Regions from separate parts of the Homo sapiens genome. Here regions 1, 2 and 4 are each linked to region 3. The links come from fine-mapping of genetic effects on gene expression. A gene starts in region 3. Each other region holds a variant in brackets. All regions are shown on one strand. Distances are between the middles of the regions.

What was found. PIP is the estimated chance that this variant, and not a neighbour inherited with it, causes the effect. A credible set is the group of variants that fine-mapping cannot tell apart.
Region 1: its variant is the best candidate, but not a certain one, in a credible set for the expression of KIF16B in prefrontal cortex (GTEx, PIP 0.58).
Region 2: its variant is the best candidate, but not a certain one, in a credible set for the expression of KIF16B in whole blood (INTERVAL, PIP 0.51).
Region 4: its variant is the best candidate, but not a certain one, in a credible set for the expression of KIF16B in thyroid (GTEx, PIP 0.66).

Annotation. Positions count from the first base shown.
Region 1 is chr20:16,611,391-16,616,902 of GRCh38, reverse strand. It overlaps LOC105372542 (a long non-coding RNA gene), which reads right to left. Exons shown (of 4, transcript XR_937286.3): 1 at 3,235-5,512. Among named protein-coding and RNA genes, the nearest start is that of KIF16B, 41 kb to the right of the region's middle. The variant C/T (reference allele first, on the strand shown) is at 2,975.
Region 2 is chr20:16,269,183-16,274,694 of GRCh38, reverse strand. It overlaps KIF16B (kinesin family member 16B), which reads left to right. Exons shown (of 26, transcript NM_024704.5): 26 at 1,284-2,591. The coding sequence ends at 1,442. Among named protein-coding and RNA genes, the nearest start is that of KIF16B, 300 kb to the left of the region's middle. The variant G/T (reference allele first, on the strand shown) is at 2,423.
Region 3 is chr20:16,570,467-16,575,978 of GRCh38, reverse strand. It overlaps KIF16B (kinesin family member 16B), which reads left to right and starts at 2,531. Exons shown (of 26, transcript NM_024704.5): 1 at 2,531-2,750. The coding sequence starts at 2,704. It overlaps LOC124904875 (a long non-coding RNA gene), which reads right to left and starts at 676. Exons shown (of 2, transcript XR_007067539.1): 1 at 252-676. RefSeq lists silencers at 2,495-2,624, 2,411-2,640 and an enhancer at 2,253-2,774.
Region 4 is chr20:16,527,773-16,533,284 of GRCh38, reverse strand. KIF16B (kinesin family member 16B) reads left to right here. Exons shown (of 26, transcript NM_024704.5): 2 at 4,845-4,914. Among named protein-coding and RNA genes, the nearest start is that of KIF16B, 43 kb to the left of the region's middle. The variant T/C (reference allele first, on the strand shown) is at 3,408.

The sequences.
Region 1 (5,512 bases), 41 kb before region 3:
AGACTCATCCTACCCAAACCTCTTTCCTTCTCTTTTTCCTTTCACAGGAGTCAGGCCTGCATCTACTCTGAAGCGTCTCCCTGCCTACTCACATTTCCTTCCCCTTTACCCTGTACAGAATTTCCTCCATTAAATCTTTTGCATTTCTCCTTCTATCTTGGCATTTGCTTCTCATAGGACCCTAGCTGACATAGTGGATCTGAATCCTGAGGTCTGATTTGTGGAGCTGTGGGAACTTGTGAGATCAATTGCAAATGAAACATTACAATGGAATCCAAGGTAGCAACACTTAGAATTATAGCACACATTTGTTACTTGGCATGGAAAAATGTTTATGATAGAGTAAATTGAGGAATTACAAAACAGTATAGTATGTATTCCAAACTTGTAAACAAGAAAGTATATATAGAAAGAGAAAAATTTTAGAAGGCTATGCATCAAAATATTGAGATTGGTTTGCTCTAGATTATAGCAGTCTTGCTTATCTTTTTTGCATGTTTACATTTTCAAAATTTTTCGTAATAAAAAATTGTTTCACTTTAAACACAGCTGAAAAGAGAATCTTTTGGCGTAAAGGAGGAGTATTTTAGGGGCTAGAGCACTTTGGGAAGATAAGGCTGCTGTAAGTTTTTCTAGAGCCTCAGGACTGCTCCATTAAGGGTCACCATATAGGTACCAGGGGCCAACGGAGGAAAAGAACTTGCAGAGGTAAGAACATAAAGACCTCAGGGAAGGCCTAAGAGAAAGTGAGTGATGAGGGGGTAGAAGGGTCCCCTCCTTTTTCAGTGCATGGATCAGTTCAATTACTATCCCCACTACCATTCTCTATCTGACTCTGATGTCATTTTGTGACCCCTTAGACCTGATTGTGTGCATGTAATATAGCTCACTCATTCATCCAACCAACATTTATTGAGCCTTACTCTTGGCTAGGCATTCTGCTAAGTTCTAAGGATTCTGGCATGTGGCAGATACTGACAGTTGCCTCCCAATACCCATTCTCCCCTTTTTCTTGTTAAAAAAAATCCTGATTTTATTTAGGCAAGCAGCACGTCTGGTTAGAAATCATGTCTTAGCGCTCACTGCAGATAGAAGAGGCCATGTGTTGCAAGCAGGAAACACTGAAGGGGGTTGGCTCAATCAGCAGACACCTTTGCCTTTCACCCTTCCCCATCTTTGGAAAGTAGATGGAACCATGAAATGAACATAAGAAACGAAGACCATACACTAAATATATGGGAGCAAAAATCAAGAAAGAATCAGTCACTAGTGGCATTATTAAACCACTAAAATGGACCTCCATATTTCTTGTTATGTGAGAAAAACAAATCTAATTTGCCGAAGCCACGGTTTTGGTGATATCTGTAACTTGAAGCTCAACAGAGTCCTAAATGGAACAAATAGAGAATGAGTCACAAGCTCTACCCTGGCCTATGTATGGGCAGACAGCCAACAAGTAAAACGTAATTACACTCTACACCCCTCTTTTTCCTACTGTTCAACTTAGAAAGAAGGCAGCCTACTGCAGTTCTGCTCCAAATTCCTCAGGCCTGCGTTTCCGCAGACTCAGGCATTTGGAAATCGCAAGCAAGATGAGTGCAATTGTTCTCAGAAGATGACTGGGACCAGCTGTTCTCAAACGGTTTGGGCTCTGGGCCCCTTTACATCCTTCAGAACTATCAAGAACTATAAAGAGCTTTTGTTTATGTGAGCTGTACAGTCCATATTTATCACAGTAGATATTAAAACTGAGGGGCTTCAACAATTTAATTTAATAATAGTAACAGATTCATTGTTATATTTTATAAAAATAACTATTTTCTGAAACCAAAAAAATCAGAAATAATCAAGAGTGACACTGTTTTACCTTATTTATTTTTAGAGAGAGGGTCTTGCTCTGTGTCCCCTAGGTTGAAGTATAGTGGCACGATCATAGCTCACTGAAGCCTCAGATGATCCTCCCACCTCAGCCTCCCAAGTAGCTGGGGCTACAGGTGCATGCTACCACGACTGGCTAATTTTAATATTTTTATTTTTGTGGAGATGGAGGTCTCGCTGTGTTGCCCAGGCTGGTCTCAAACTCATGGTCTCAGGTAAGCCTCCCTCCTCAGCCTCCCAAAGTGCTGAGATTATAGGTGTGAGCCCCCACACTCAGCCTGTTTTATATTTTTTGCAAACCTCCTTAATGTCGGGCTTGAAAGAAGACAACTGATGGTATTCTGTCATCTGCTTCTGCATTTAAAGCAGTCCAATCCTTTGCATTACATGTAGCCTCTGGAAAACTCTACCATACATAATAATACTAACATGTTAGCATCATTACGAACATTATTTCAACCTTGTGGACCCCCAAAGGGGTCTTGGAGTTCCCCAGGGGTATCCCTACTGTACTTTAGAGTTGCTGCTGTGACCAGTGCTACTCAAAGCAAGATCTCCAAACTCTTTGTCACGGGTCTGTGTTAGATAAGTTCAGAAATTGAGTAAATGTTTAGAAACTCTTACAGCAATTTGACAGTAATTTTATGTCTGTTGAATCTAACAATAACGTTAATCAATCAGGGCTTTGTTTCATGTCTTTTCTATTTTTTTATAATTTATGTTTATTATATTTTACAAAAGAATCAGTCTGCAATGGATTGAAAATGAAGGAAGAAAGAGCTTTCATCACGGTTTCTGAAGTGATGATCTATCTTGGGGATGTTCAACGTGTGGTTCTCAGCAAGTAATGTCTACGTCATCTCGGAACTGGTTAGAAATGCAAATTCTCGGGCCTCCCTCCAGATCAAAAGAATCAGAAACCCTGGAGTGAGGCCCAGCTATCCGGGTTTTAACAAGCCCCCCAGGGACTTGAATGCTCAGGAAAGTTTGAGAACCACTGGTCTAGATCTGTGTTTTTCTAACTTAAAGGTACATCACTTGGGGAGCTTCTTAAACTGAAGATTCTGATTCAGAAGATCTGGGATGGGGGTGGAGA[C/T]TTTACATTTCTAATAAGCTGCCAGGGGATGTGGGCATTGACCCCATTTTAAGTAGCAATCACATGGGTAAAAGAAATCTGTTGTTGAGACAGTTGTCAGCTAAAAAGAAACAAAACCAACACTGCAGTAAAACAAACAAACAAAAGGTGTTTTCATCAGGGTCTTAAGAATTGCAATTCAGGACACACAGATCTAGCAAGCGGCTCCATCAGGCAAGGTTGGGCAGGGGCTTATAAAGGTTTACTGTAAGTTTACATACCTGGAAGGTTTTCATATAGTGCATGATTGATGATGGCTGGTTAACAGCTTAGGATGTCTTTCAGTCTTGTTTGGCCTAGCTGTCTTTCCAGGAAGCTGGTGATCAGGCCCAGTATAAACAGTACAAGTCAAATGCAGTTGGTGTTACAATTTGGCCCAGTTCAACAAGTCAGATTTCATCTGGGTGTGCACATGACTGGGATCCAACTCCTTATGCCCCGCAGATCCCATTTAGATACCTCTTACATAACCATCTCCATCTTGGATTTTATTTTCTCCACACAGTGGAGAAACAATTTCTATAGAGACAGACCAGCAAATTGGCTGCTGTATCCCGTAGAAGGCCAAGAGGCTGTTAGTGGCATTCTTTAAAGGATGTTGTCGTAATTTCTTTTTTAATTGAGGTCAAGGCAATAGAGCTTTGAGGCAGGTGCAATTTAGGGAAGGCTGCTTTCCTTCTGGCCATGGAAATGAAGTCCTAAGAAGAGAGTTCCACTCCAGGTTTCTGCCAGCCTGGGATTTCCAGCATGGCTTCCCTCTCTGCAGCACCTTGCTAGCAACTTAATTATCTGGTGCTTGAAGACTGAAGGTGACATGCTCTGGGGAAAGCAGGACAACGGTGAGTGTTGAGTGACTTTACTGAAAATATAGACAAGTAATGAAATTTTGAAGAACTGCTGCTGTGGCAGGAGCTGAAGGAAACCAGAGGCAACAGCTGCAGCTTCTCCCAGTTCCTCAGGGAAACATGCTGGGGTGGGGAGTGGGAGGGAGAGGGCTGGAGTGCATGGCACAAATGCAACCAGTCCCACTGGACTGTCAGTTGAACTTGATAAAGGCAAAACGGAAGCTGAACATCTGCAAATCTGTTTAGATTGTGATACTTTGGACCAGAGGAACAGTTATCCCCAGGAACCACCATGCAGCATCAGGCCAGTGAAGGATAAATTTGGGTAAGGACAAACCCATTCCAGCTCCTGCCTTCACCCCAGGTCTTTGTGGGCCATTGGGCAAAGCCTTTTCAAATAAAAACTTGAGAAAAATGCCTATGAATACATCTTTCACAGTTGAAAGAGAGATAATATGAGCAGCAGTCAAATTTGCCAGGCTCTGGAATCAGACTGTCTGGGTTTGAACTCAAACCCCATGATAATGAGCCGTGTGTCTTTGGCCAAGTTGCTTTTCCTCTCTGTGCTTCATCAATCAGTTGTATTTGTTCTATCCCTCTCACCAGGCTTTGAGCTAAGGATGGTGACTGCATTTCATTCATTTTTCCTTTCTGGTGGCATCTGATTGAGAAGGGCAAGGTACTTAACTCTGTCCATTTTAAGATTTGAGTTGAGAGCCACAGGCAATATGTGACATTGGGATTCTAAAGAGGGAAAGAGGAGTAGTTTGTGGTGCTTGTGGTGGTTGTGCAAGGAAGATTTTGGACAAGAGAGTCTACTGAGGCTGGGACTGCATCACCAGGAACTTTGTAAGAGGTGCTGCAGGCACAGACAGATTCAGGGGCTCAAATGATGCCTCAGTCTCCTCCCTCCATCACTAAGCCCGGCTTGTCCAGCATCAGCTCTATCTCCAGGCCAGCTCTCCTCACCGTGGTAGATGGAGCCTCCGCATGTGGAGTGGCCCGGCTGTGATCCGGCTTAACTTGAGCTTTTATGGCCACCCTTTATTACTTTGCTTCCATGAGAACACACATACCGAGTTCCACACAACTGCTTTATAAATGAGCTTTTGGAAGATAAGTATGCAGAAGCCAGATATGCCCTGTTTCCATCTGGACCAATACCCATGTATTAATCTTCCCACTTCTGGTAACATAAAAACAGCTGGCCAAAGTGTCCTCCAAGCAAAATCCATAAGAGACTCAACCTTGGCCCCAAATGGTAGTTGAGATGTTTTTATACTTTGACTACTTTGTCCTTCCTTGTGACTCCTCTGCCCTCCTCTCACTTCATCCATTCTGTAGTTCCAACCCCAACACCACCATCTTCCCTTCCTGCTCACTCCCACCAAGTCAGACAACACCCATGCTAGAAAGAAGTAGTAACGATTGCACCTGTCACTAAATGATCAGCACCTCTGCTGCCCTAACAGCTTCCCTATGACAGTCATAGCCAGGTAGACAATGGAAGCCTGAATTCACAGAAGTCAGCCGCAGGCAAGTCACTGGGGCTGACTGAGACAGAACCACACCTGAAGGATGACTTCTGGGAAGGCAGCAGCTGGGGCGGGACTGGGAGCAGAAATCAAGATTGTGATGACTTTCACAGTTTTAT
Region 2 (5,512 bases), 300 kb after region 3:
TGGGGCAGAACTGCCTCTTGTTGGGAACTACTGCTCCAGGCTTAGGCCATGTTGCTTTCACAAATTTTTTGTTGTTACTCAGAGTCCAGAATTATTATGTGTAATTCCTAAGACTGTGCCAGGGTTGTTTGGGTTTTTTAAGCACACTGAGACAATAATAAAGGTTTGGGTCTAACCCCTTCCCTCCAGCCCATTTTCTGTTACAGATGAGATTTGCCTGGCCTAAAATATATTAACTATTCTTGTGTGCCCTCTTTTCCTTGAACACATCCCTCCAGCTCCCACATCTGATTTTATCCCCAGTTCCCAGAGCCTAGTCTCACATATGCTTTGCTTTCTCAGTGCCAAAAACGGCAGATAATGTTGCAACAAACATGCAGCAGGGGTCTGGAGCAAGTAATTGTAGTAAGGATTCCTTTTTGTTGATGATTATAGGACATGCAAAAAGATCTGTAAATATCAGTACTTGGAACTGACCCTCTTGTCCTCAGTATTGCTTTCCCTTTATTTTATAAGAAGGATTCAAAACAGATACTGACTGTGCAATTTTAAAATACCAGTAAGCAGCACATTTAACCTTGTACAGATGGCCGGCCTTTTTTTTTTGTTTTTTTTTTTTAATCATCTTTCTATTTAATGAGTAACTGGGAGCGGGGAGGAAATGACTTTTTTAAATAAGAGATTAACTAGTGACACTGTGGCTGAGAGGCAGATCCCCTGTGCCTGGCACCCTTGACATTTTCCTAGGCATTGTCTGCTGTAGATCTGAGACAGTGCTGCCCAGAATCAGTGCTGAGCCAAAGATATTTCTTCTGTGCATATGTATTTTGTGACTCCGTCTTCTCTGGTTGGTCTGATGATAGGTGGGACAGTGGAGGGCATTCCTCACGTGCTGGTTTTAATGACAATGATAGCACTTTCCAGGTGGGTGGGAAGTTGTTTCTGGAAATTTTTTCTCTTCTTGACACCATCCAACAGTACCTTGACCGTATTCTGATTGATTGATTGATTGATTGATTGATTGATTGATTGAGACAGGGTCTTGCTTTATCACCCAGGCAGGAGTGCAGTGGCACCATCACAGCTCACTGCAGCCTCTACCTCCTGGGCTCAAGTGATCCTCCTGCCTCAGTGCACCACCCTGTCCAGCTAATTTCTTTATTTTTTGTAGAGATGAGGTTTCTCCATGTTGCCTGGACTGGTCTCAAACTCCTGAGCTCAAGCGATCCCACCCGCCTTGACCTCCCAATTGACCATGTTCTTAACTCTTGTCTCTTCCACAGAAATACCTCAGGGACTTTTTCAGCGTGATGCTCCAGTCCGCAACATCTCCCCTCCACATCAACAAAGTGGGACTGACTCTCTCGAAACATACCATTTGTGAGTTTTCACCATTCTTCAAGAAAGGAGTCTTTGACTACAGCAGCCACGGGACGGGGTAGAGCCAGGGGTGATGGAGGAACCACCACAGCAGTGCCTTCTCGTCGAAGCGGGCTCCGATGCAGGGCAGCTCCCCCATGCGAGGATCCGGGTCTGCCTCCTCCTGCTGAAGACAGACATGCAGCAGCGGGCCCGGGCCACCTCACGTTTCCATACCTAGTGCCTGAGTTTGGGGATGGGATGCTCTGCCTGCTGATGTGGCCCTGACAGGCAGCCGTTACCGTTCCATTGCGGTTGAACGTGGCCTTTTCCCACAGTGCTTCCTTCTCACTGCGCAGCAAAGTTCGTCCCCTGTGGCAAGATAGATGTGGTTGGGCCATCGTGGGTTCCCTGAGCCCAGCCAGCCTGGGACCTCCCAAAGTGGGTGGCTTACCAGACCACCCTTAAATGACTTTCATCTGGTTTCCTCTTTCACCAAAATATACTCGTATTTTTTATATTTCTTCCATGTGGCTGGCTATATTCCAAGAAAAGCATTTTAAATTATTTCATTGTATTTTTTTCTTTTTTTCCCTCATTTGAATCAGAACTTTTATATAAAACCCAAACACTGATGTTTACACAGAATTTCATATTCTGCAAAAGGGATTTTTTGATCCAATCATGACTGTAGTCTTCCATGCTTGACAAATTGGATGTAGACAACATTACTTAAAACTTCTATAAATCCCTACAATTAGGATATTTATTTAACCTTGAATATTCAAGAACATTCTCCCAAATCTAAATGGCTACTGTGCATTCTTGAGCTTTTTCTGCTAAGCACAAAATGAACGCAAAGCTAAATGCATATTTTTAAGTATTATTCACATTTTTTGTTACAGAATCTATTGGATCTTTGGCTGGAAAACTAGAATTTATAGCAGTTTATTAATGATACCTTAAATTACTCAGGACTTAATGTAGCATTGCACTTCTGTGTACAGTAAAACTGCTTTGTTTTACTAAAGAGAAAAATGTGAGTGGAAAAAATATGTATGTG[G/T]TATATACTCAAATGTATATAATTCTATCTATAGATTTATATATGTATACATTCTGTACAGTAGTTCCATCAAAATATGTAATAATTCACACCAATTTTATTAAATGTATTTGCTTTTTCAAAATTTAAATTGAGCTGCTATCAATATTAAATGAAGTTATGGCATCTACCCTGTAGCTCAGCTTATTTTAAGTCTGTAACATGATCATTCATACTAGTCTGTTTAAACATTGATCTAATGTTCTTGGAAATATGCATAATGTATAACTCAGCATTTGTGTTGCAGAAGATGCAGTGATAGTAATGATTGAAGTCGTAAATGAATGGTTAACAGAACATGTTTGCATTCCATCTTCTAGAGAATGCCTTCACAACAAAGTTCTCCAACCTGAAAAATATGCATAAACGTGCAATTATCCCTATAAGGAGGAAAACTAGTATTGCACTAATTAAATATCATAGTATAGTGTGAAAAAAAATGAGGACATTTTTGCTGCAGAAGGACCTGCTTTTGTCTGCAGTTGTGATTACAGGAATAGGTTTAGGAGCAATTACTACCAGAGAATTTCAAACTAGAGATTAAGGGATAAGAGCTGGGTAGATAATAATTAACCATAGGTCATTTATTTAAGAGGAGTCTTAAGCCCTAAAGATGGTCCCTCATTTGCTGAGTAAACTAAGTGGTTTCTCTTCAAACTGACCAGATAATCTATCTCTTGGCCTTTGAGGCCGGTATTGGAGACTAGGCTCCTGGTAAGCATTTTGTTAAAATCACACAGAAGGTTTGGCAAGAATAAATAGACATGTGTTTGTAAGAAGTGCTGAAATCAGAAGATCCTTCTATTCTAATCCTCACCTTAAGTAATTATAGTTGAGTTTGGAGTTTGAGTACTACTAGCAAGCTCTGGCCAAGGCCGGTCATAACATGGGAGTCGTTTTGCCTCTCTAGGCCTCAGTCTGTCCATCTGAAAATGAAGCTGTGGTACTGGATGGTCTCTTGAGTTTCATTCCAGCTCATGGTTACAGCAGAGGAATAAACCATGTCATTCGGACTCATTACAGTCCCTCATATGTGTACGTGAAGTACATACTTCCAATCTGATTTAAAGGCAGCTGATTCTGAATAAAACATGAGGGAAAGTTGAAAAGCAAATGAAAAGTCACATCTAAACAACAGAATTCCTTTCTGGAGTGAAGATAAGACAGATGACAGAATTAGGATAACAAATGGAAACTCCATTGATTTGGACTAATTTAAAAGAGTGAAAGAAAATTAGCAAATGGATATTTTATTACTTCCAAGTCATCAAATAACAAAGTAACGCCAAGCTGACCACTTTAGGCAATTCAAATTGAAGTGTCATGAACATAAATACTTTTGCAGTCGGTTGGACAAATCTAAGGAACTTAAACAATTTTTTATTTAAGTAGTTTTGACATTCACTCCTAGGTCTTGCTTGCATGATAAATATGTGCACCAAATTTGTTGATATCACTGGTATTGTAACCTTCCGCCCAGTTCCCACTCAGACCTTGCTATTGCTGAATTAGAAAGATTCACATTTAACCTCGTGATTAATTTTGGCATATGAATAGGGAGTAACCAAGTCATGCTGGCTTCCCCAATGACTGACATCTAGAAGATTCTGTGGCTCATAATGGGGGATGATTTGAAGATACACAAACAGGGTATCCCACCCCAGGGCCGATTCTATTTACAATTCTATGCAGAAAGAGCTAGTTCTGCCCAATTTGGTCCCTGATCTACTCAGAGCTGTAGACAGCATATGTGTCCAAGTCTGAGCAGAAGCAGCCAAAAGCTTTCACGGCTAGAACATGCCATAGACTCAGAGGTGGAGGCACCCTTGGGGAGCAGCTGTGGTGCAGGGTCACGTTGGTGTTCTGTATTCAACTTTTAAAGACAAGATTTTTTTTTTTCTGGACACATCTCCTGCAGCACAAAACCACAAGACCCCATTTCCTCAGGTGCGCAGTCAGGGATGCAGAGCCACGTGCTAAGGGGATGTGGCTCCTTACTGATACTCTGAGCCTGCCACAGGCTTGCCTTGTCCCCTCAAAGAGAATGTGCATAGCGCTTCAGGCCTGACATGCTTCAAACAGTAGCATTAGGTTTTCAAGTACACTGACGTTTATAAATGCCTAAAATGTTGCCTTGATTAAAATGTTGCCTTGAGGTGTCATCAGTTGACAGTTGAACGTCTCTGCCGCAGGAGACCCTTCTCCTTCCATAATCTGACACACACCTATAGGAGTGATTCAGATCCGACTTTATCAGAAAGGTCTTTCTTTTTTCATGTTAAATAAAAGAAGGGGAGTAGAAAAGTTAGGCAAAATAAATCCATGGCAAAATTAACTAGGGGCTGGAAGGGACAAGGACAGTGAGATGGCAAAATTAACTGCTTTAGTTTTACTTAGCTTATCATGACAGGTGATTTAGGTTTTGGGAAAACTAATTAAAGACCATTAATCTACAGAGACTCATTCTCGCAAATTAAACCTTGTGTATTCCTCCTTTTTCACATGCAAGAAGACCTGGCTATTGACTTTCTTGGTTTTTTTTTTGTTTGTTTGTTTTTTGGTTTTTGGTTTTTTTTCTGTTGAGACTGCTTTTACTGATGACAGTTCATTAGATAGGAAATGATTCTGTGGTACACAATTTTGAACTTTGCACATAGGGAATTATTTCCAAATTGACAAAAGTTGCCCATTATTACAAATTTCTGAAGCATCCTGTTTCAAATTGATCCCGTAGTGGTACCTTTGAGTTAGAGGGGTGATGTTAATGTTGACCAGGGTGTTACCTTGAGAATGATAATTTGGGATCCAGTAGAACCCTGTTAAACTTTAAAATGGTAGAAGGAGCAAAAAGGCAGTTGACTGAACTGAAGGGGTTGAAGGATGTGAGTTCATCCTTGTTACCTGCAAATAGCACATGCGTGCACTTACCATCCGGGAACTCTGGGCACTAGGCTGTGGCACATCTCCCAAGGTTACCCCATGCCTTTCTAGAAAGCTGTCTCCTGTGTGACTCTTGCAAAATTGACTAAATGCAAAACATCCTTTCTTTGA
Region 3 (5,512 bases):
GTCCCACCTGAGCCTCCTGAGTAGCTGGGACTACAAGCACACGCCACCATGCGTGGCTTTTATTTTTGTTTGTTTTATTTTGTCGTAGAGACAGGGTTTTACCGTGTTGCCCAGGCTGGTCTCAAACTCCTGAGTTCTGGCAATCCATCCTCCTCGGCCTCCCAAAGTGCTGGGATTACAGGCATTAGCCACCGTGCCCGGCCTAGAGCTTCTGTAACTGTTTTTCACTATCAGTTATTTTAAGCTCTCACAGTTTGCGTAGAGGTCATCTATCCCCTGGCTCCTTGCAGGGAGGGTGGCAGCCGACAGCATCTTCACTCCCCGAACGTGCTGGAAATGCCATGTCTCAGGCTTCCCCTCTGACTTGCCCATTAGAAGCTGCAGTTTCACAAGACCGCCAGGTGATTCCTTTAAACATTCAAGTTTGCAAAACACTTTAAAGCAGGCACACTAAAGTCTGAGATGAGCAAACCCCTTATCTTATAATAATCTTCCCTTTCAGAAACTTCCTTCACGCCCCAATAGAAATATTTTCTGCTAAGAAAGTGCCCGTTCCGTATCGTCTGTGATGATCAAGCCTTACTGCTTCCTATTGAAAAGCTCCAGGCATGCTGTTTGTTGTCTAAAGCGTCTGCCGGGCTGCGATGGTCCGTTTTGTGTCAGACAGCAAAGTCGTGGATGGAAAGGGGGCTTATAAACACGTGTAGGTTGTTGGAATTACATTAACGAATGAATGAGCAAAACCTTCTAAACCACCGACCAATGAAACCCCGATACAGAAAATCGCTGTCATGAGTAAGTTAGCACTCCTGAAGAGTTTGAATACTGAACTGGCCAGAGTCTGCGCGCCGACGCCCCCCAGGTGGCCGGAGTGACCCGGAGCAGGCGTGGCTGTCTCTCAGACCCGCGCGTTGGGCCCGAACAGTTTGTCCCCACGCAGCTCCCATATAAGGCGGGCCCCTCCCCTGCCCCAGCCAGCTAGGTCGCCGCGCTGGCTCCCTGGCGGCTTCTCAAACCAACCCGCCGCTACTGCGCATGCTTGGCAAGCTCGCCCGCTCCTTAATATCCTGCTCCGGCTGTTCCTGCCACCCGTTGGTCAAATTCGCACCCAGCTCTGCTCCAGACAGAGGGAAAACCCAGTGATTTCCGGGCTCTAGAAACAAAGGGAGGCTATGATTCCCTGCTGGCCCTAGGGGTCCAGGGAAGGTTATGGAAAGATAATTCTTTGTGTAAGCGGGTTGCGTACTTGCAGACATCATCCCACTTGATGCATTCACCACTCTATGCCGTTGTTCCTGATTTGCAGATGAGACAAGAAGCCTCAGAGGCGCCCAGTAATTCAGAATTACAGGCTGACAAGGCTAGTGTTGGAGCTAGGACTTAAAAACAGGAGTTCCGCCTCCATTCCTTGCGTCTCCCATTATAGCTTGGCTTCCTGGAATGGCTGCTCCTGTGGCTCGCAGGTGGGCTTCTGGGTGTGCGCAAACGATTTCATGCATGCTCGATTCACTGAATGAATGAATGCATTTACCTTCTACACAGGAAGGGAGGTGGAGCTCACTTCTACCAGAGGCCCTAAGCCTTAAGATACCAGTTGTCGGCCTGGCGCGGTGGCTCACGCCTGTAATCCCAGCATTCTGGGAGGCCAAGGCGGGCGGATCATTTGAGGTCAGGAGTTCGAGACCAACCTGGCCAACATGGTGAAACCCCGTCTCTACTAAAAATACAAAAATCAGCCGGGCGTGGTGGCACGCCCAGCTATTCGGGAGGCTGAGGCAGGAGAATCTCTTGAACCCGGGAGGCGGACGTTGCAGTGAGCCGAGATCGCAGCATTACACTCCAGCCTGGGTGACCGAGCGAGACCCTGTCTCAAAAAAAAAAAAAAAAAAAAAAAAATACCAGTTGTGTTCGCCTTTAACTCCCTTATGATTAAAACTAAAAATTACTAAAGTGTACAAAAGTGCAAAACAAGTCTAAATAAGGTTTGATTCTAGCCAATATAATGACATTCCCGCACACATTTAAAACATCCAACACCCTATTAATTTTCGTTTATCGGTATCCCGAGTTAAGGGGTCCAAAACATACGGTCGGACCTCCTTAGGGTAGCAGAGAAGGCCCTAGCGGAGTTTGCCACCAACAAGCTGTGATCATCTCTGCGCCTCAGTTTGTTCGTGTGTAAAATGGATACGTTAACTCATGTTTGGCTGGGTGAAGCCAGGTTCTTGTTAAGGGCTGAAAAACTGGCTTTGGTCACCTGACCCCAGGACTGTGATCCTTGCCGCTGGCTTTAAATTGCTGCGATCCTCTTCTCTCCAGTTGTTCAGGCCATGAGGGTGGGTTCTAGTTTTCCTGAAACCATCCGCTCCGGGTCGCCCCCATAACCTCTGCGCCAAGGTCCACAACGTGGCCTTTCCAGACTTGCAGATCCCGGAGGCTGCTTCCAGGCCCCGCGGCCCCGCCCCTCTGCACCGCCCGGCCGCCGCCAAACCGTGGCGCATGGATCACGCGGGCCGGAGCCGTTCTGGGCATGCTCAGTGGCCTGGCAGGTGGGGCTGCCGCGGAACTCCAGGTCCGGCCGGGAGCAGAGGGGCGGGGGCGAGAGGGAAGTGGGCGGGAGCCGCGATCTGAGTAGCCAGCGTCGCCGGCGACCGCGGAGTTCTGGGCTAGTGGGACCCCGCGCGGGCTGGTTCGGGATGAGCGATGGCATCGGTCAAGGTGGCCGTGAGGGTCCGGCCCATGAATCGCAGGTGAGTGGGGCCGCCCGCGCCCCGCCCCCTCGTCGCGCCCCCACCCAGAGGAAGCCTGTTTCCAGCTCCCCCAAAGCCAGCCTGGACTTAAAAGTGTCACCGGCTGGTCCCTGGCCCACCGGGCCCAGGCTGTGGCCTCTGGGGGCCTGGAGGACTTCGTGCACTGCTGTCCCGTTCACATTGCCCTGGAGAGGACCCTGGTGGTAAAGGAGAAGATTCTATTAACTCTCTCCATCGTATTAACTTGAGATGTTCTTGTTCCCCCTTTAAAAAAGCATCAAGGGAACGTTACCATGAAGATGTAAAATAGTTGGGGGGAAGGTGAGAGTGCTGAGGGGGGGCACCACGAACTGTCAGGTGAACCCCTCATTTCTACCAACTCAGAAGTTCTCTTAACAATTAACCATGCTACTTTTTAATCTTTCAGTTAGAGATGATTTTGATTCCCTGAATGTCTAATCGATAACTTAGCAGTTCCTAACTTCATGTTAGAGAGTGGATGGGAAAACTTTGACAAAGTCCTGACTCCTAGAAAAAAGTCAGGGACGCTTTACACGTGTTTGAAATACTCTGATATTAAGAGAGAGGAAGAGTGTTACACACAAAATTTAATCTTGTTATATATTTCTACGAAGTAATGCTTTTTCAGAATCCTTCTCTTCATTCACTGAAAAATAGCCTGTGCTCCCTTTTCAATGACCTCTTTTTAATCCGTTTAGAAAGTTTCTTTGGAAAAGTTACTTTTTAAATTGGTTTGACTTCAAAGAATGAGGTAGAAATGGGATGTGTCCTCCAAGGTGACAGGCAAGGTTCACACAGAGCCATTTGATTTTATTGACTTCTCTACCAAGTTGGTGGATATTTGACTTACCATAGGGCCTTTTTGCTTTTGTCATATCAACTTGTGGAGGTTAATGTTTGGTAGTTCTGATGCCTGATTGGGGCAGCCGAAGGCCATAAAATCAAAAGATTTCCAGAACCTTATTTGACTCATCTAAATCTGTTTCTTCTCTTGGCAAGTAGGGAATCATTATTTTGGTTTGTAATCATTAAAACCCAGTGTTTTCAGAATCTGCTTTTTGTGACTTTTGAGTTATTTCTAAAGCTGTTTAGAGTAAGAGTTTGACTTTTTTGCTCTAAGGGAATATTTTTGTTTCTGTGTACATTCCATCATAGAAGATAAACTTTAGAACGATTTTTCTTTATTATGGATTTTCATGTGTATAGAAGTTCTTTTTCTTTTTTGGAAAAAGGTGAACACATGCTAGAAAATTGTATTGTGTAACTTTAGAAAGTATTTGTTAGGCTGGGCGCGGTGGCTCATGCCTGGGAGCCACTTTGGGAGGCCGAGGCGGGCGGATCACAAGGTCAAGAGATGGAGACCATCCTGGCTAACACGGTGAAACCCCTTCTCTACTAAAACTACAAAAAATTAGCCGGGCGTGGTGGTGGACGCCTGTAGTCCCAGCTACTCGTGAGGTTGAGGCAGGAGAATGGTGTGAACCCAGGAGGCAGAGCTGGCAGTGAGCCGACACCGTGCCTCTGCACTCCAGCATCAGTGACAGAGCGAGACTCCCTCTCAAAAAAAAAAAAAAAAGTATTTGTTAAGCACCTACCAAACACATAGCATTCCTCAGGGTGCTGTCTGGGATACAAGGGGAATGAGACCTGGTGAGCCATGGTGAGAGAGGGATTATGTACTGGCATGAATCTTGTGAAGTATTGGGCCTGCTGGGACAGGAACTGTGAGTTCAGTGCCTTGCCAGTGTAGGCCTGGAGCCCAGGTACATGGAGGGATGGCAGGAAATAAGTCCAGAGGCCATGGGCTTTGGGGAGGCAGATTCGCGTGATGTTATTTATATTCTCAGTAGAGAACTCTGGTGGTGTCAAGATTGAGGTAAGAGGCAGGTGATTAGCAGTTTGAGCCAGAGATGAAATTGGAAGGCAGGATAGTTACAGGAAGACCACTCACTGGCAGAATTGGCAGGATTTGGCAGCTCACTGGATGGGAAGAAGGGGGAAGAATGCGAGTGTAGAGTCATTAACTGAGGTTTGATGCTGAAGGAGGTGAACAGGTTTGAGGAAGGTGGACAATGAAGTTGGTATGTTCTCTCTTGGATGTGGAGAGTTACATGAGATGTATTAAGTGTCAAGTACAAGCACAGAGCAAGTGTTTCACGCATGTTGACCTTGTTCATTATCTGAAGTGTGGGAAGGACATCCATCCCTCTGCTAGAGATGTTCAGCAGAAAGCTGAAAATGTGGGTTTAGGTCTCAGGTGATTTGAGGATCGACATTTGGAAATCTTTTGCACATAAACCACAATTTAAGGATGTTACGTGAGAAGAAAAGGGAGCCAGGGATTGGACATTGGGATATGCCCCTCTTTAGGATTTCAGGGAGAAGATTGGCTTGCAGTCCGTAAAGGAGAACCAGCACAGCAAATGGTCATGGCAGGAAAGGGAGAAGAGCATCCTGAAGGAGGTGGTGGGGGTTAGTGTCAAATATTGCCAGGATGATGAGAATAAGATGGTGTCCTTGGTCTTGAAGACAAGGCTAGTTGATAACCTTCCCAACAGTACTTTTAAGGAGAGTCAATGATTCAGAAGTTGGCAGTGAGTAGAAAGAGATATATAAATTGGCAACTGAATATACTTGACCTAATTTATAAGGAAAGACATGCATACTATAATAGTGATAAAATGCCATTTTTTTACCAGTGAGATTGATAAATATTAACTGAGCACCAATTGCTGGTACAG
Region 4 (5,512 bases), 43 kb after region 3:
TATTAAGAGTCAGAGCAGGGATTCCTATCTTTTGGGGTGATGGAACTCTTTGAGAAACTGAGGAATGTGGTAGACCCTCAGAATAGTGAAACTGCCTCCTGCTCCTGATCCCCCTTCCCAGCCAGTCATCCCAGTACATAGGATTTCAGGGAGGTGGTGAAACCTTCAAAACCTACCTGCATCTTCAGTTTTCATTTTAGAAGTAGCTAATAAAAAGACAGTCATATTGCATAACAGCCTTTCAGTCAGTATCTCACTTAGTGCTTTTATAGAATGGATGTTAATTTAGAACTAGGAACGCACTGCCCTGGTTACCTGCAGGTTAGAATACATGATCATGTGGAGGGCCCTTTAAATTTAGCTGCTCCAAAGGTGTAAGGTTCTGAGATGGGGAGTTATGGAGTCTCTGGCTTCCAGCAGGAGTGGTGGGCATTGTATGAGCCACATTACTTTGTTTTCTAGGCAAGAATTGACAAGTCAATGTGAGCATTACCACGATCACTTCTAATATTTCTATGTAGCTGGATAATTTTGTGTTCCTGAGAGGTATTTGTTGATAATAGTGGTTTTAAGATGAAAGCTCTAGATGCATTAGGTTAGTGATTGATTGAGAAAAAAGGACCCACTGTGGGAATGGGAGGAATCTGGGTTTGGTGTTCTGTGATATAAATAAACCCAGGTGGTTTGTTCTCTTGTTGAGCAGGACATGCTTTGGTAATTGAATGCTGTAGGAAAGGTTTAATTTTATGAAGTATTTGTTTTGTAGCCACATGAACATGGGGTGTCCCTGAAGCAGTTCTTACTTTTGGGTCCACAATGGAATTGCCCAACTCCTGGTGGGTTGGAGTGGAAGCATTTTTCAGGCTTGGAAATGTTAAACTTGGCCCTGGGAATCTGCTGTAGTTCCCAAATGGTGTTTACTGCAAATGCTTTTTGGGTTTGTTCACAACTGATATTTATTTTGTCTCTGTTCGTCTGAGCTGGCCAAGATGTTACCCCTTAGCTGGTTTCCCCATACCTGGATTATTTTAAAGTAAATCCCAGGTAACATATCATTTGATTTGTAAATATTTCAATATGTATCTCTAAAAGGTTTTTTAAGTCATAATACTATTATCATACCTACAATATTAGCAATAATTCCTTAATATCATCAAATATCTAGTCAGTGTTAACATTTCCCTACGTAAGTTATAATTTTTTTTTTTTTTTTTTTGAGACGGAGTTTTGCTCTTGTCGTCCAGTCTGGAGTGCAATGGCACAATCTCGGCTTACTGTAACCTCCGCCTCCTGGATTCAACCGATTCTCTTGCCTCAGCCTCCCAAGTAACTGGGATTACAGGTGCCCGCCACCACACCCGGCTATTTTTTGTCTTTTTAGTAGAGGCGGGGTTTTGCCATGTTGGCCAGGCTGGTCTCGAACCCTGACTTCAGATGATCCACTTGCCTCGGCCTCCCAAATGGTTATAATTTTCAAAGTGCTTTTTCTGTTTGAATTGGGATCCAGTTGGTTGATATGTCTTTAATGTCTTTTCTAGCTTTAGATTTCCCTTTCATCGTTATATTCTTTGCAATTTGTCATAATTTGGAATATGCTGAGTCATTTACCCTGCTGCCTTTCCCACAGGCTGGATTTTACCGATTCCCCCACCTGAGAACATTGGCGTGTTCCCACTTACACTTGTCATTCCTGCTGGTTCCCTATAGGGCAGCTCTAGGTCAGAGTCAGGCCATCCCTGGGAGGGAAGGACAGGAACCCTGGGGCAGTCGCGTTGGTACTTCAGGTAGAATACACCTCGTACCTGGTTTTCTCACAGTGGCTGGCCTGGTAACCATCGGTGGTCCCTCCCTAGAGCCATTAATTCACCAGGGGTGACGAAATGATATTTTGTTATTACTTCTTTATTTTTTTAGCTGGAATATCTCTAAAGGAGAAACTTTCTTTCACAGTTGTTTGGTTACTTGAAGTATAGATAGTTTTGGAAATGCAAGATAAATGCTTGATTCTTTCTTTTAACAGTTTTCAAAATAATGAGACAGATCCTTTGATCTTTCAGAGGGGACCACTGAGTTTTTATTTTTAAGTTATGAGTTTATGTGCTTAAATATATTCTATCTATTTCAGTTGGTTTTTAGTTTCTTTGCTGTCCAGATTTCTCAACTTTGGGCAGCAGGAACTTATGCAGGTTGGTTCCTGAGTCCTTTTGACAGGGTCCTTGTATTAGTTTTCTTTTAGTGTATAACAAATTACCCCAAAACTTAGGGGCTTAAAACAATATGTATTGACCAGGCATGGTGGCTCGTGTGTGTAATCCCAGCAATTTGGGAGGTCGAGGCGGGTGGATTGCTTGAGCTCAGGAGTTTGAGACCAGCCTGAGCAACACAGCAAAACTCCATCTCTACAAAAAATACAAAAATAGGCAGGTGCAGTGGTGCGTGCCTGTAGTCAAAGCTACTTGGGAGGCTATGGCAGGATAATCGCTTGAGCCTAGGAGGTGGAGGTTGCAGTGAGCTGAGATCATGCCATTGCACTCCAGCCTGGGTGGCAGGAGCGAAACCCTGTCTCAAAAAAAACCAAACAACAACAACAAAACACAGCATGTATTATCTCAGAGTTTCTGTGGGTCAGGAATCTGGGTGGGGTTGAGCAGGGTCCTCTGACTCCGGCTCTCCCCTAGCGCTGCAGTCAGGGTGCCAGACGGCTTCCCAGTCATCTCTCATCATCATGTCCCGGTGCGGGCTTGGGGAGCGTGCCCTGCCAGGCTGTCTGGCGTGCTGCTAGCGGGCCCCTGTTTCCTGCTGGCTGGGTCTGTCCACAGGGGTCCTCACTCTGTCGTCCCTGACTTTTCACACTGCCAGGGCTCAAACAGAGAGGGCAGAAGAGAGAGCCAGCAAGACAGAAGTCACAGTCTTGAAAGCCCGCCTGGGAAGTGACAGACCATCACTTGGGTGTGTTTGTGTTGTAGTCATTAGAAGTGACTCACCAGGTCCAGCCCATAGTCAAGGGCAAGGATCGCACACGACAGGGTGTGAGTGCCGGGCAATCACTGGGAGCCGTGTTAGAAGGTGCCCGCCACAGCCCTAGTGACCTGTGTTAGTGTTCCTGCTTTATAGTGTGAAGAGATGGTTCAGTATTTGGATTGAATCACTTCTCCAAGGAACCCTGACTTATTTTAGTGGAAAATGTTATTTATAGGCTATAATTTGAGTGTAAGATTCTAGGCCTTTTCAATGGACAAAGCAAGGGAGTTGTTTGTTTTTTAAATTTTGGATGAAAGATGAAGTTTCTGCTACTCCTTCCAATTAGATTCAGGACTACAGTTTTTTCTGGGACAGAATTTCACTCTTGTTGCCCAGGTTGGAGTGAGTGCAGTGGCGTGATCTTGGCTCACTGCAACCTCTGCCTC[T/C]TGGATTCAAGTGATTCTCCTGCCTCAGCCTCCCGAGTAGCTGGGATTACAGGCATGCGCCACCATGGCCGGCTAATTTTCTATTTTTAGTAGAGATGGGGTTTCTCCGTGTTGATCAGGCTGGTCTTGAACTCCCGACCTCAGGTGATCTGCCCGCCTCTGCCTCCTGAAGTGCAGGGATTACAGGCGTGAGCCACCGTGCTCGGCCAGGACTACAGTTTTTACTTAACCTCATCAAACTTATGTTTGTATCTCATTCAGCCACTTCAAAAACCTTGGTTCTCTAGGGCACCAACATCATTACTCTTGTAATGTCCCACAGTACACAGACAGAAATCTCAGAATAATGGCACTTACATTACCACCAAAAATATGATTACTAAAAATGCTTTAAGATTTCTTTGTAGTTCTTTTTCTTTTTAGGATATATCTCATTATAGTATACAGTCAAATTCCTCTATAGAGTCGTAATTGAAATAGTTTCTCACTTTGTGGTACACAGCTAGATTCATTCGCTTCAACTTACTTCTAAATTATAGCTTGTTTTTTGAAACTCTTGTTTTATTTTTGCATAAATCATTTTTATCGTTCTAAAGATGACCTCCAGATCAAAGTATATTTGCAGAAATCTAGCTTCTATCCTTGTCCACTTCCCTTGTCTGCCCCAAATCCTTATCCTCAATTTCCCTTTTTTTCCTAGGTAGCCTTTTGAAAAATACATAGGTTTTAAAAAAGTGTTTAAATATAATTTGTATTTTTCTACATAGATTTTCTCCATCTTTTGTCTCCACTGAACAGTATATCCCAGTATATCCCAGTGGCCACGCCATAACAGATATAGGGATCTTCCTCATTCCTTGTTCAGTGGCGTCACACTCCATTGGGTAAATGTATGGTCATTTATTCTAGGGAACTGTACTCTTTAGGAGTCCTCCTGTTCTGCTGTTTTCTGAGAAATGCAGTTTCTGAACAGATGTAGAAAGAAGGTAGGAGGAGGGAACAGTGCCCTGGCTGCTTCTGGAAGCAGCACCTGCTTGTAACCACTCCAGTTTTCTCTTTGGTTTTCATCTTGGGTAGGGGGCTAAGGTCTCTTTCTCTTTGTAACAAGGTGAGGGGGGCTACTTTTTTTTGGTGAGTCTTAGCTCTTTGTGGTGTCTGTTATTTCATTTACTCTTCTTTTGGCTTACAATTGGAAATTCTTTCAGGGTTTAACAACACACTGTGTATCAGCCATAATTGTTGATGGTGGCATCATTTTGCGTATCTTCATGTTATATTAGTAAGGATTTGGGAGGAGCCGTGTCTGGGATTGCTCCTCAGATGCCATTTGAAAATAAACTCCTAACGTAAAAAGTAAATAAAACAAATGGGTTTAGTTTTGTTTTGTTTTTAATAATCTTTTCTCTTCTAACCACTACTGAATTATTTGTATTGCAGGGAAAAGGACTTGGAGGCCAAGTTCATTATTCAGATGGAGAAAAGCAAAACGACAATCACAAACTTAAAGGCAAGTCATGACCTGGCCTTGCTTAAGTTCCAAGAGCCCCATGATTGCTTTACTGTGGGGATGACTAATGAGTAAATAAAGCCTGTCTGCTGTTTCCACACCCTCCTTTCCAGTGCAGTTAGCCACGTCAGCTTGCACCTGGCTTGGGCTCAGTCTTGAAGCAGAAGAGTTGATCCCGTTTCCTTTCCCATTCCTGGCTTTATTTGATCTGGAAGCCAAATCCAAGCTGTTGCTCTGGTCCAGGAGCTCCTGAGTCTATCCCAGATTCGGGCATTTTCATCCTGTGTCCTCGTAGTAGGGACTTAGCCTGGCAATTGACTGTGTTCTGTGAACATTAAATAAGCTTTGCCCCTATATTTTTTTCCATTTTTAATGAAGAGGATCATGTTTGGTAATCCTTGAAGAAGAACTGATACTATTATTCAAAACTCAGGGAGGAAAGATTAAAAAAAACCACCAAATTTCTTTTCTGGAAAAAAAGTTAAAAAAAATTTTCAAGATGGCAAGTTTCTCCTTTGGCACTGAAAAATATCCTGTTTGTTTATTTGGTTAGGAAATTTTTAAAGGGCACTGAATGCTTTTCGCTGAGGAGGGTAAC